Linked DNA regions of Homo sapiens. The protein of the gene in region 1 interacts with the protein of each later gene in a pairwise test. Each region holds a gene or a part of one and is shown on either strand. Other genes may lie near its edges. The genes, in order: GAS2L3, TSR2 and FNDC3B.

Region 1 (4,150 bases):
TCATTGTTTTTGTTGAGTAAAGGAAGGAATAAATGCTAGAGAGAGATGTCATTCCAGTTCAGTGCCCACCATTCACAGATGGAGACCTGAGGCCCAGAGAGGAGACATGATTTGAGGAAGGCTAAAAGACTGAATAGGGCCGGGTGAGGTGGCTAACGCCTGTAATCCCAGCACTTTGGGAGGCCGAGGTGGGAGGATCACTGGAGCCCAGGAGTTCAAGACCAGCCTGGGCAACATGGCAAAAACCCATTTCTACAAAAAACACAAAAATTAGCCCGGTGTGGTGGCACAGGCCTGTAATCCTGGCTACTCTGGAGGCTGAGGTGGGAGGATCTCTTGAGTCCGTGAGATCAAGGCTGCAGTGAGCCGAGATCGTGCCACCGCACTCCAGCCTGGGTGACAGGGCAAGACCCTGTCTCAAAAAAAAAAAAAAAAAAAAAAAAAAAAAAAAAAGAAGGGCCTGGGCTGCAACACAGGCCTCGGGGACAAAGCCAGTGATTTTTTTAAAAAATTATTTATTTATTTATTTTATTTTTTGCTATGAAACAAGCCACATTTACAGATATAACCGACTTGGGATTGTTACACTGATGTCTAGTCTCGGCTTTATTTCAACCCTGGGAGCTAGTAAGCATCCCTTACGTTGAAGTTCATTGTTTTTTTGTTTTGTTTTGTTTTGTTTTCAGGCTCCGGTGTTTGCTGAAGAGTCAACATCCTCCTTTTGTGACTTGGGACTACAGGATTCCTCCTCATCCCTCCGCACCTGAGAAGAGGGGCCTCTCTCTGAAAGATTTCTGCTGAGGACCCCCATTCCTGCTGGGTTCCAGGCTGCGTCTCTGGAAACCGTGGCGCCCTCAGGTCAGCCAGCTCCCGAGTGGATGTGGGGTTGGGAGCGGCTCTTAACAGACCAGGATAAAACTCAGGGAAGCGCCTTCAGCTGCACCGCAACATTCCAGGACGCTCAGAAGCAATTATTACAGGCGAGGTTCATTCACCTCTCAGGCCTGTGGGAACAACAGGACGGGCTGTGGCTTTCGAACTGGCTGTCGCTGAAAGGCCAGATCGGAGGACCTGCTCTGACTGAACCACTTCGCCTTTCAGTGAACAGAGGGACTTGGCCACCGAAGCTCCGAGACGCCCGGAGGCGCAGCGCTGGACGCGCTGACAGGCGAGCGCCCACGGGTCGCGTGCTTCCCGGCAGCCCGGGGGCGGGGCCTCAGACCACGCCCCCGCCTTATGATTGGTCCCTTCGAAACAGGCGGCGGCCAGCGGCTACTGACCCTGAGGCCCAGGCGGCGGCGGCAGCGGCGGCGGTTGGTCAGGGGCGTGTTGGCCCCGCACAGATTGAGCCGAGTTGTCGCCCCGCTGGGAGAAGTGACCCTCCTGCGCCTGGTGAGTACTTCCCTGTTTGTCTTCTCTTTTCCTGGCGAACTTTTACGCGCTGTCTCGGGGCCTCCGCGCCTCAGCCTGAGGGCTCCAGGAGCCCCCCGCTCTCTGAGGCCCCGAAGCTGAGGTTTGTTGGGTCTCCCGGCTGCGGGAGCCAGTACGCTCTGCGTTTGCCTGGCTGCGGCAGTCGCGTGCTCTGATTGGCTCCTGGGGCCGTCAAGGTGACGTTGCGCCTGCCTTCACCTGTCCACCCAAGTGCGGAGAGAGGGGCGACAGGTGTGCGGGGCGGTTGGGGCTGCTGGTGTGGGCGAGCTCAGCTGGGGAGGAGGGATCCAGCCGCTACTCGCCCTGCTTTAAATCCAGAGCGGTATCAGAGCCCGAAGGTACTGTGGGATCTTCAGGGGCACCCTCATCCCTAAGCGCCTGGCACTTAGAGGGTCTGTTTTTTTCTGTTCATCATCCTCGGAAAGAATTGATGAAGTCTCTGGCCCTGCAAAGAGAAAGAGACAGACAGTTATTCTTGCCCTCTAGCAAGGTTTATAGGCTCTTCCCTGTTTTTTCTCCCAGTCCATGCAGGGTCTAGAACGCCCACATGTGCGGAACTGGGGAATAGAGCTGGAGACCCTGCGCGATGCCTTCCGCCCACAACCCTCAGTTTGGAGGACTGCCCGGGGAGAGGCTGGCAAAAGAAAGGGAAGGCTTGTAGAGTGCCTTGGAAGTCAGAGGAAAGTTTTGGAGGGCGTGCTCCTCTATGCAGTCACCCGTGGTTCCTTTCCTAATCTTTTCACACCGAGGGATTGAATGTTGTAAATTTGAGTGCTTTGTGGCATGGCATGGTGGAATAGCTGATCCCCAGTGGTTGCAAAGAGATGATTTTAGGTCAGAGCCTGGGTTTTGCTTCGCTTGTGTGAAGAGCAAAAAACAAACAAACAAAAACAACAAGAACAACAGAACCGCTTTGTGAATTGCTATCTGATCACCTGTCTTGGCACTTAAATGATTAGAAATTGAAATTCTCACCACCTCAGATTCCCTTTGGGAACAAATTGGAACTGTTTCAAATGACAGAAGTGGAAACTCTAGTGATCTGGTGTAGATGCCGATACCTGTTGTCTGACTCATCTGTTTCAAAATCTCATTAGAAACCAACTGTCATTGAACAGTAGGTGTTTGCTATCTGACATTGAATTAGAAGTAGTAATTTTTTTTTTTTTAGCGTGACAGAGTTGCTAAGCAGGGGGGCTCTGAAATCAGACTTCATTGGATATCTGACTTTAGACACATTATTTAATCCTTCTAAGCCTAAATTTCCTAGTCTGTGAAAGAAGGTTAATAATAGTTCCTACTTTATTGAGAGGATTGTTGTAAAGATTAAATGAAATTCCACGTAACTAATTTAGCACAGTGCCTGATACATAGCTATTATTATTTCTCTGCTGTTTAACTTAGACAAAAAGTTTTGAGCTCTCCCCAAAGGATGGGGAGAGGTAGAAGGTGAAGGCAGTACCAGAGATAGGGATAATTATTGTTTATTGACTAAATTATACATGTAAAGCATTTAAAACAGTATCTGACACATCATAAACACGTGGATTACTATTTATCAAACACATCATTATATATCAGGTATTGTGTTCTTTACTTATATTATTGTTAAACCTCTTAGTAATCCTAAAATGTAGTTCATGTTATCTCTATTTTTTTTTTTTTTTTTTTTTTTGAGACAGAGTCTCGCTCTGTCGCCCATGCTGGAGTGCAGTGGCGCGATCTCGGCTCACTGCAACCTCTGCCTCCCGGGTTCAAGCGATTCTCCTGCCTCAGCCTCCCGAGTAGTTGGACTCCAGGTGTGTGCCACTACGCCCAGCTGATTTTTGTATTTTGGTAGACACGGGGTTTCACCATGTTGGCCAGGATGGTCTCGATCTCTTGACGTCGTGTTCCGCCCGACTCGGCCTCCCAAAGCTCTGGGATTACAGGCATGAGTCACCGCGCCTGGCCGTTATCTCTATTTTATAGGGGACAAAACTGAAGCTCAAAGAAGGGAAATCACTTACTAGGGTTCACCTGGAATTCAGTGCAGGCTTTTTTCTGTGTTACACACCTTTATATTCCTAACATTAAGTAACTTTCCTGCACTGGATTGTCAGTGTGACCCAGATTAATTTCTGCTGTGGGTATGGGTTTATTTTGAATACATTATGAATTTTAAAATAATGAGAAATAACTTGTGATGGTAAATCAAAATTTGTGATAAAAGAATAGTGTCAACAAAATGCATGCTATTAGTAAAAAAAACAGTGATATTTTGGAGTTTTGATGTTTGGAGAATGGCCACTTCAGAAATGATGTTCCTAATTTATATTTTGATAAATAGAAATGATGTTTGGAGAATTGGCTGTTTCAAAAGTAGTATCTCCTCATTTATATTTTCTCATTTAATTTTCATTTATTCACTATGTTTTTACTAAGCTACTCTTCCTTTTTTTTTCCTATCAATTTAAGTTTGGAGATAATAGGAAAGGTTCAGTTATTTGGATAGATTACTAAAGAGCTTGCTGTTGATGATGAGGAAAGTAAGAGATTAAACTTAATATGTATTCTTATGTTTTACTTTCTTACAGTAACGTGTGTATTTTACTTCTTATTATTGGTTTTCATACTTTGATATTAGATATACCAGTACATATCTAATGAGTCATGCAATGGACATAGAATGATATTAGATATACCTTTACAGATCTAATGAGTCATGCAATGGACATAG
Region 2 (2,718 bases), on another chromosome or scaffold:
ACGGCTCCCACCCTCCCTGGGGACAGGGATTAATAAAAATTGACATCACTGTAGGAATATATTTTTTAAAAGCCCACGTTTTGTGAAAAGATGAATTAAAAAACCCAAGACCCAGCATTCGGGATTGAAAGTGCCCGTGATGGGAGTTCAAGTATTGACTGAGCTGGGAGGGAAGGGGCTAGAGCCCCCAATCAGACATGGGCAACTAGAGTGTGGGGTGGGGGCTCCCAGTTTGTCCCAAACCCTCTAGGTCTTGTCTCGGGTCTGGGGGGATTCGGGGGGTTCAGCAGTGGCTCCTAAAGCAGCCACCGGTGCCTCCTCCATCTCCCTGTCCTCAGACAGTGTGGGCCCCGGGCAGAACGTGTCCCCTCGGCCCGCCCGGCCAAGCACAGCCATCCAGCGTCGCTGTAGTTCCTCTGTCTCAGGGCTGAAGTACCAGCTGAGGTGGCTCTGGGTGATCTTGAAGACATGCCTTCTGTCAGGCCGCTCCCCTGCCTCGGGCGGTCCCACCTCGAAGCCAATGAGGGGCAGGCTGCGCTGGGCTTTCACATCCTGGCGGGAGGAGGGACAGAGCTGGGGCCACCTTGGGGCTAGACCTTTCCCCCGCCCCAGCTTCTAACTGGTTTTGCATATGCTCTGTCTTCAGTCCCCTACTCAGGAACTCCCCTACTCAGGAACCTTCCGTGGCTCCAGTGTTATCAACAGGAACATGTCAGAACTGGGGCTAAAATGCAGGCTGGTTTAAATACCTGTCTCCCCCCACCCCCGCCTCTTCTCACAAAACTGCTGGGCTAGTCTCTTTAGCATACCAAATAATGTTTTCAGGCCTTTGTCTATGCTATTGCCCCTATCTGCATACTTTTTTTTTTTTTTTTTTTTGAGACAGAGTCTTGCCCTGTTGCCCAGGCTGGAGTGCAGTGGCATGAACTTGGCTCACTGCAACCTCTACCTCCCAGGTTCAAGCAATTCTCCTGCCTCAGCTTCCTGAGTAGCTGGGACTACAGGCACACGTCACCACGCCAGGCTAATTTTTGTATTTTTAGTAGAGACGGGGTTTCACCATGTTGGCCAGGCTGGTCTTGAACTCCTGATCTCAGGTGAGCCACCTGCCTCGGCCTCTCAGAGTGCTGGGATTACAGGCGTGAGCCACTGCGCTCGGTCCCATCTGCATACTCTTACCCACTCCAAATTGGACCTAGCAGTTCCCCATCTCTACTCCTTCCAGGAAGCCAGGCCCACAACTCATCCTGGTTTTCCCTACATACCACAACCACTCCTTGTCTCTAGCCAGTCTTTGTCTCTCAAGGGTTGGGGTTCTGATTTCCTCTTAGAGATAGGCTCACCTTATCTTCCAAGGCTCACCTTATCTTCCAAGGCCAAGGAGAGGTCAAGGACTGGATCTGGCTTTGCCAGGTGGCTGAAAGGACCCGAAGGAGTAGGATGCATACCTGAGGGGCTCCGTAGATATACAGCACCAAGGGTTCATTTTCAGGGACCACGAACCATGCCTTGTGCCATCCTTTGCCACCCTTCTCCATGTAGTGCAGGAAGCTGCAGATGACGCTGTTCTCTGCAGCCACTGAGGCCTGTTTCTGTGGCCAGAGACACCGGGCATCAATGTTGACAGAAGGCCTAGCCTGGCTCCTCCTAGCTTTAATACCTCCTCAGTGTAGGGACTGCTATTCCTATCTCAGATGAAGACGCTCAAGCTCAGGTGGCAGGAGTGATTTGTCCAGTGCCACCCAGTGAATCAGCTAGAGCTGAGATTCAAAGCTAGGTTCGTCTGCCTCATTTGGGCAACGGCTGCTGCCTCTACAGGCCAGTGGAAGGAGTGTGCGGATCTCAGGCATTCTTTCTTCAGTCAGAGCATTCATTCCTCAAGCCATTCACACATTTAGGCCTCATGCTTTTTTCTGTCTTTCATCACATCCATTTCCTACACTCATTGAGAGGTAATCTAGCATTGTGGTTTTAAGGGGGTATGTGGGTGGTTAATGAAGTCTGGCTTAGAATCCCAGCTCTAGATGAAAATGTATTGACTTGGAGAGCAAAGAGAGCTGATGTGAGAATTAAATGAATTAATATATGCAAAGTGCTTAGAATAGTTCCTGGCACAGAGTAAGTACTCTTTTAAGTGTTAAATAAATACCTAGATTTGTTTTTAAAAAAATCTCCAAAATGTGTGTTTGTGCATATATGCCTAGAAAGATAGGATAAGCCCTCACAATGGTAACTTTTGGGTAGAAGGGATACGGTATTTTATTATTTTTTGTTTATATTGGTCTACTTATCCTACTTTGTAATAACAAAAGACAATTTTTAAATTTTTTTTTTTTTTTTGAGACGGAGTTTTGCTGTTGTTGCCCAGGCTGGAGTACAATGGCGCGATCTTGGCTCACCGCAACCTCTGCTTCCCAGGTTCAAGCGATTTGCCTGCCTCAGCCCTCCCAAGTAGCTGGGATTGCAGGCGTGCGCCACCATGCCTGGCTAATTTTGTGTTTTTAGTAGAGATGGGGTTTCTCCACATTGGTCAGGCTGGTCCTGAACTCCCGACCTCCGGTGATTCACCCGCCTCAGCCTCCCAAAGTGCTGGGATTACAGGCATGAGCCACTGTGCCCAGCCAATTTTTTAATTTTAAAAAAATCCAGTGCTGCCACTCATTTGCTGTGTAATTTGGGCAAATGACCCCTCTGGGCCTCAGTTTCCTCGTTTGTAAA
Region 3 (3,653 bases), on another chromosome or scaffold:
TTATACATTATCTCATTAAAATTCTAGTATTTTCGATTTAGGTTGTGTTATGCACACTTTACAAACAAGGGGATTGAGATTTACAGAGAGAGAGTAACTTGCATAAGATCACGTAGCTACCAATGGTGTCATCCAATGGAATTTTCTTCAGTGTTGGAAATGGTTCTGTCTGTGCTGTCCAGCATAGCAGCCACAAGCCACATGTAACTGAGTCTTTGAAATGTAGCTAGTGGACTGAGGAACAACAGTTTAAGTTTTTTTTTTTTTTTTTGAAATGGAGTCTCGCTCTGTCGCCCAGGCTGGAGTGAGTGCAGTGGCGCAATCTCGGCTCACTGCAACCTCCGCCTTGCTGGTTGAGATGGATTCTCGCTCTGTAGCCCAGGCTGGAGTGCAGTGGCGCGGTCTCGGCTAACTGCAACCTCCGCCTCCCGGATTCAAGCGATTCTCCTGCCTTAGCCTCCCGAGTAGCTGGGATTACAGGCGCTTGCCACCACGCCCGGCTAATTTTTTGTATTTTTTAGTAGAGACGGGTTTTCACCATGTTAGCCAGGCTGGTCACGAACTCCTGACTTCAGGTGATCCACCCGCCTCGGGCTCCCAGAGTGCTGGAATTACAGGCGTGAGCCACCACACCCGGACTAAGTTTTATTTACTTGTAATTATTTTAAACTTAAATTTCCACTTGTGGCTAGTGGTTACCATATTGGAGAGCAAAGTGTAGAACTTTTTGACTCCCAAATCTTTCACATGTAGCTTGGTCATATTGCTCTTTATTTTACTTTGAGACAGACTCTCGCTCTGTTACCCCGGCTGGAGTGCAGCGGCATGATCACTGGCTCACTCACTGTAGCCTCCACCTCCCAGGCTGAAGTGATCCTCTCCCCTTAGCCTCTCCAGTAGCTGGTACTACAGGTGTGCACGCCACCATGCCAGGCTATTTATTATTATTATTGTTTTTTTGTAGAGACAGGTCTCACTAGGTTGTCCAGGCTGCATACTGCTCTTTAGATCTCTTAGTTCATTTTTCTTTCTTCTACGATATCAGAAGTTACATTCAGCCCTTAAATGGAATTTAAAGACTGAGTTAGCTATAGCTCAACTTTGCTTTCATATGTAGAGTGGATAAAATACGCACATTATTTGTTAACTCTTTGGTTTTAAAAACAATGTTTACATGTCATAGTTAAAACTGGTGGAAAAATCTTTAAATTGTATCTTTTTTGGTTTAATATAGGAATTGTGCATAGGAATTGCTGAAAAAGTAGTCAGAACTTGTTGGTTATTTTAGTGTAATAAGAGTACAAATAGGAAGCAATATGAAAAGTCACTAATAGAAAGCTGAAAAAAACGATCCTCTCATACCCGCGTCCATCCGTTCATTGGACAGTTCTTTTCAGACTTTGTAAGTATCAGTAAACCATTACTCACTTTTCCTTATGTAGCTGCAGAAGTAACCTGAAGAATTAAAATTATTCTTTTACTCTCAGTGTATAGAAATCAAATATCAAACACATTGGATTCATCCATGAATTGGGAAGAATATGTGTAAGATTAAAACAGTAAGAAAGATCTGTCCGATGGCAGATGTTCAAATCATTTTCTGATTAGTGGATTTAATTTAAATTCATTGAATTTTAGAGTTTCATTTGCTAAAAGGAATTTCAACAACTTTCTGATTTTGTATGGAATAGTGAAAATTCCAACTCTTTTTTTTTTTTTTTTTTTGGTGTGCTACCCTCAGGAAAAGGCAAATTATAATGTAATCTCTTTTTATTAGGATTTTTAAGAGGCAACTGCCAGGTTCAGTATAAATATATCTGAATCTATTGTATCTTCCATAGTTATGGTACTGTCCTGGGATAATTGCAGTTCATAGTCTTAACTCTAGACATATCCTGGAGGACCTATGTCTGTAAATTATCTTTGAATTGTTCTATGTTATTTTAGTGTTATGTGAATTACATTGCTTCCAGCTCTTTGAAAATCGTTAATTCAACTGCAGGTAAGGCGTCAGTTACTGAGACTGTTCAGATAACTGAAACATCCTGTTCATACCCATTCCTGACCATTGGGACCACTGTACTATTTTCAAGGATAAGATACCACTGTACTATTTTCAGGATAAGAACCATGTTATAAATAGAATTATAGTGTCCTAGTGAGTGTGACAAATATAGGAAACATGATTTAACCCATGACATATGGTTTGATTTGTAGGACATCCCCAAGTGCTTAATACAAATGAGAAATGTACTATAATCTTAAGGCATAAAGATGTTTAAATGATGGACAAAAATTGAGGGCCACATCTGAGCATCAGTTTGAAATCAGAATATCTCCTCTGTCAAGGAGTGACTTTACTTTCTAGCTGGGTCCTTGATAAGCTTTTGAATCTCTCTGAGTCTGGGTTTCCTCATTTTAATATAAGGAGGAAAGATCTAACTCGTACCTTTTCAAATGGTGTCACAAGGGATTAATGAGTCAGTGTATTGAGAAGTGTTTGGCAAAGCCTTATACAAACTCCATAGTTCATTATATTCCAGAGTTTAAAACTGAGCTGGTGCTATGGTATTTCTCTGCACATTTTCAGAGACCTCCAAATTGTGCTTGGACAGTTTGAAAAATGATTTATTTTTCTCTTTGTGATCAGTAAACAAGGTCCAAGCTTTAGATGTTGTATTTTATTTTACCCCACTCCTAATGGAATAGGTGATTTGTGACCTCTGCAAAGTTGTACTATACATAAGTTGTCCCATATCTGTGTTTTTGGGAAGCTGGTCTGTAGCTGGGCTAGTGTTGCTGAAGTGGGCAGGCCAGGCTTGATTCAGGGCTGTTTTTGAGGTGGCGGGAAAAAGTGCAGTCTCTTAGAGGAACGTTCAGTACTGAATGATAAAGGAATAAGGTTTTAGGCCTTGTATGTTACCTTAGCCTATTACTTGAGCTTTCAGCAATTACAGCTGAGAATGGAAAAGAATCGTATTTTCAGTGTAGGGGAGTCTTTGCAACCTACCTGCCTTTCCACTTTAGAAATCACAATTGCCTTTTCTTCTTGTTAACGAGGTTAATCCATTAAGTGGGATATTTATATGGTAAGACATTATTTTCAAGTAAATTAATTCTCACTCTTAAGGCTGTTGAGAATTCACTTAGGTGGTTGAGGAGAAGCTTTGTACTTTAGTTTACTGAGTGTCTCTCTCTCTCTCTCTCTCTCTCTCTCTATATATATATATACACTTTGCCTTAAAATATATATTATGGTTATGGCATTATGTGTTGTAAAGAGGGAGAGAATGCTTGAATTATTGTGGCTAGATAGGGGCAGGTAGACAAGCACAGGCCCAACTGGAAGGATGACTTGATGGTAGTTGAGCACTTTGCAAGGTACCTCCAGTGAGATGCCAGACCCTAGTAACAAGCTCACCTGGAGGGGAGTTTGTTTGTGGTGCAGGTTTAATGTCAAGGACCAGTTCTTGGAAACAGAAGGTATGTGGGGTGCCAGTTGAAGATCAGGGGACAGAAATGTTTTTAAAACCACCAAGTATAAATCACATAAGATCGATAGACAGTCGTGATCAGCCATCTACATACAGATGAGGATGTTTGTCAGTTTGAAAATGGATCGATTGTTGAATTTTTCTTTGTTTCTCCCCAGT

The links.
Region 2: the proteins of GAS2L3 (region 1) and TSR2 interact in binary tests that used the Homo sapiens proteins (3 or more experiments, as listed by UniProt).
Region 3: the proteins of GAS2L3 (region 1) and FNDC3B interact in binary tests that used the Homo sapiens proteins (3 or more experiments, as listed by UniProt).

Annotation. Positions count from the first base shown.
Region 1 is NC_000012.12:100,572,394-100,576,543, forward strand, and holds the start of GAS2L3 (GAS2-like protein 3), read left to right. Parts: upstream 1-1,290; 5' UTR 1,291-1,392; intron 1,393-1,953; exon of another isoform or gene 1,954-3,230; intron 3,231-4,150. UniProt on the Homo sapiens protein: Cytoskeletal linker protein. May promote and stabilize the formation of the actin and microtubule network.
Region 2 is NC_000023.11:54,445,863-54,448,580, forward strand, and holds the end of TSR2 (pre-rRNA-processing protein TSR2 homolog), read left to right. Parts: 3' UTR 1-246; coding exon of another isoform or gene 247-552; 3' UTR 553-1,448; coding exon of another isoform or gene 1,449-1,592; 3' UTR 1,593-2,170; downstream 2,171-2,718. Other genes in the region: FGD1 (FYVE, RhoGEF and PH domain-containing protein 1), read right to left, coding at 247-552, 1,449-1,592. UniProt on the Homo sapiens protein: May be involved in 20S pre-rRNA processing.
Region 3 is NC_000003.12:172,042,578-172,046,230, forward strand, and holds part of FNDC3B (fibronectin type III domain-containing protein 3B), read left to right. Parts: intron 1-3,653. UniProt on the Homo sapiens protein: May be a positive regulator of adipogenesis.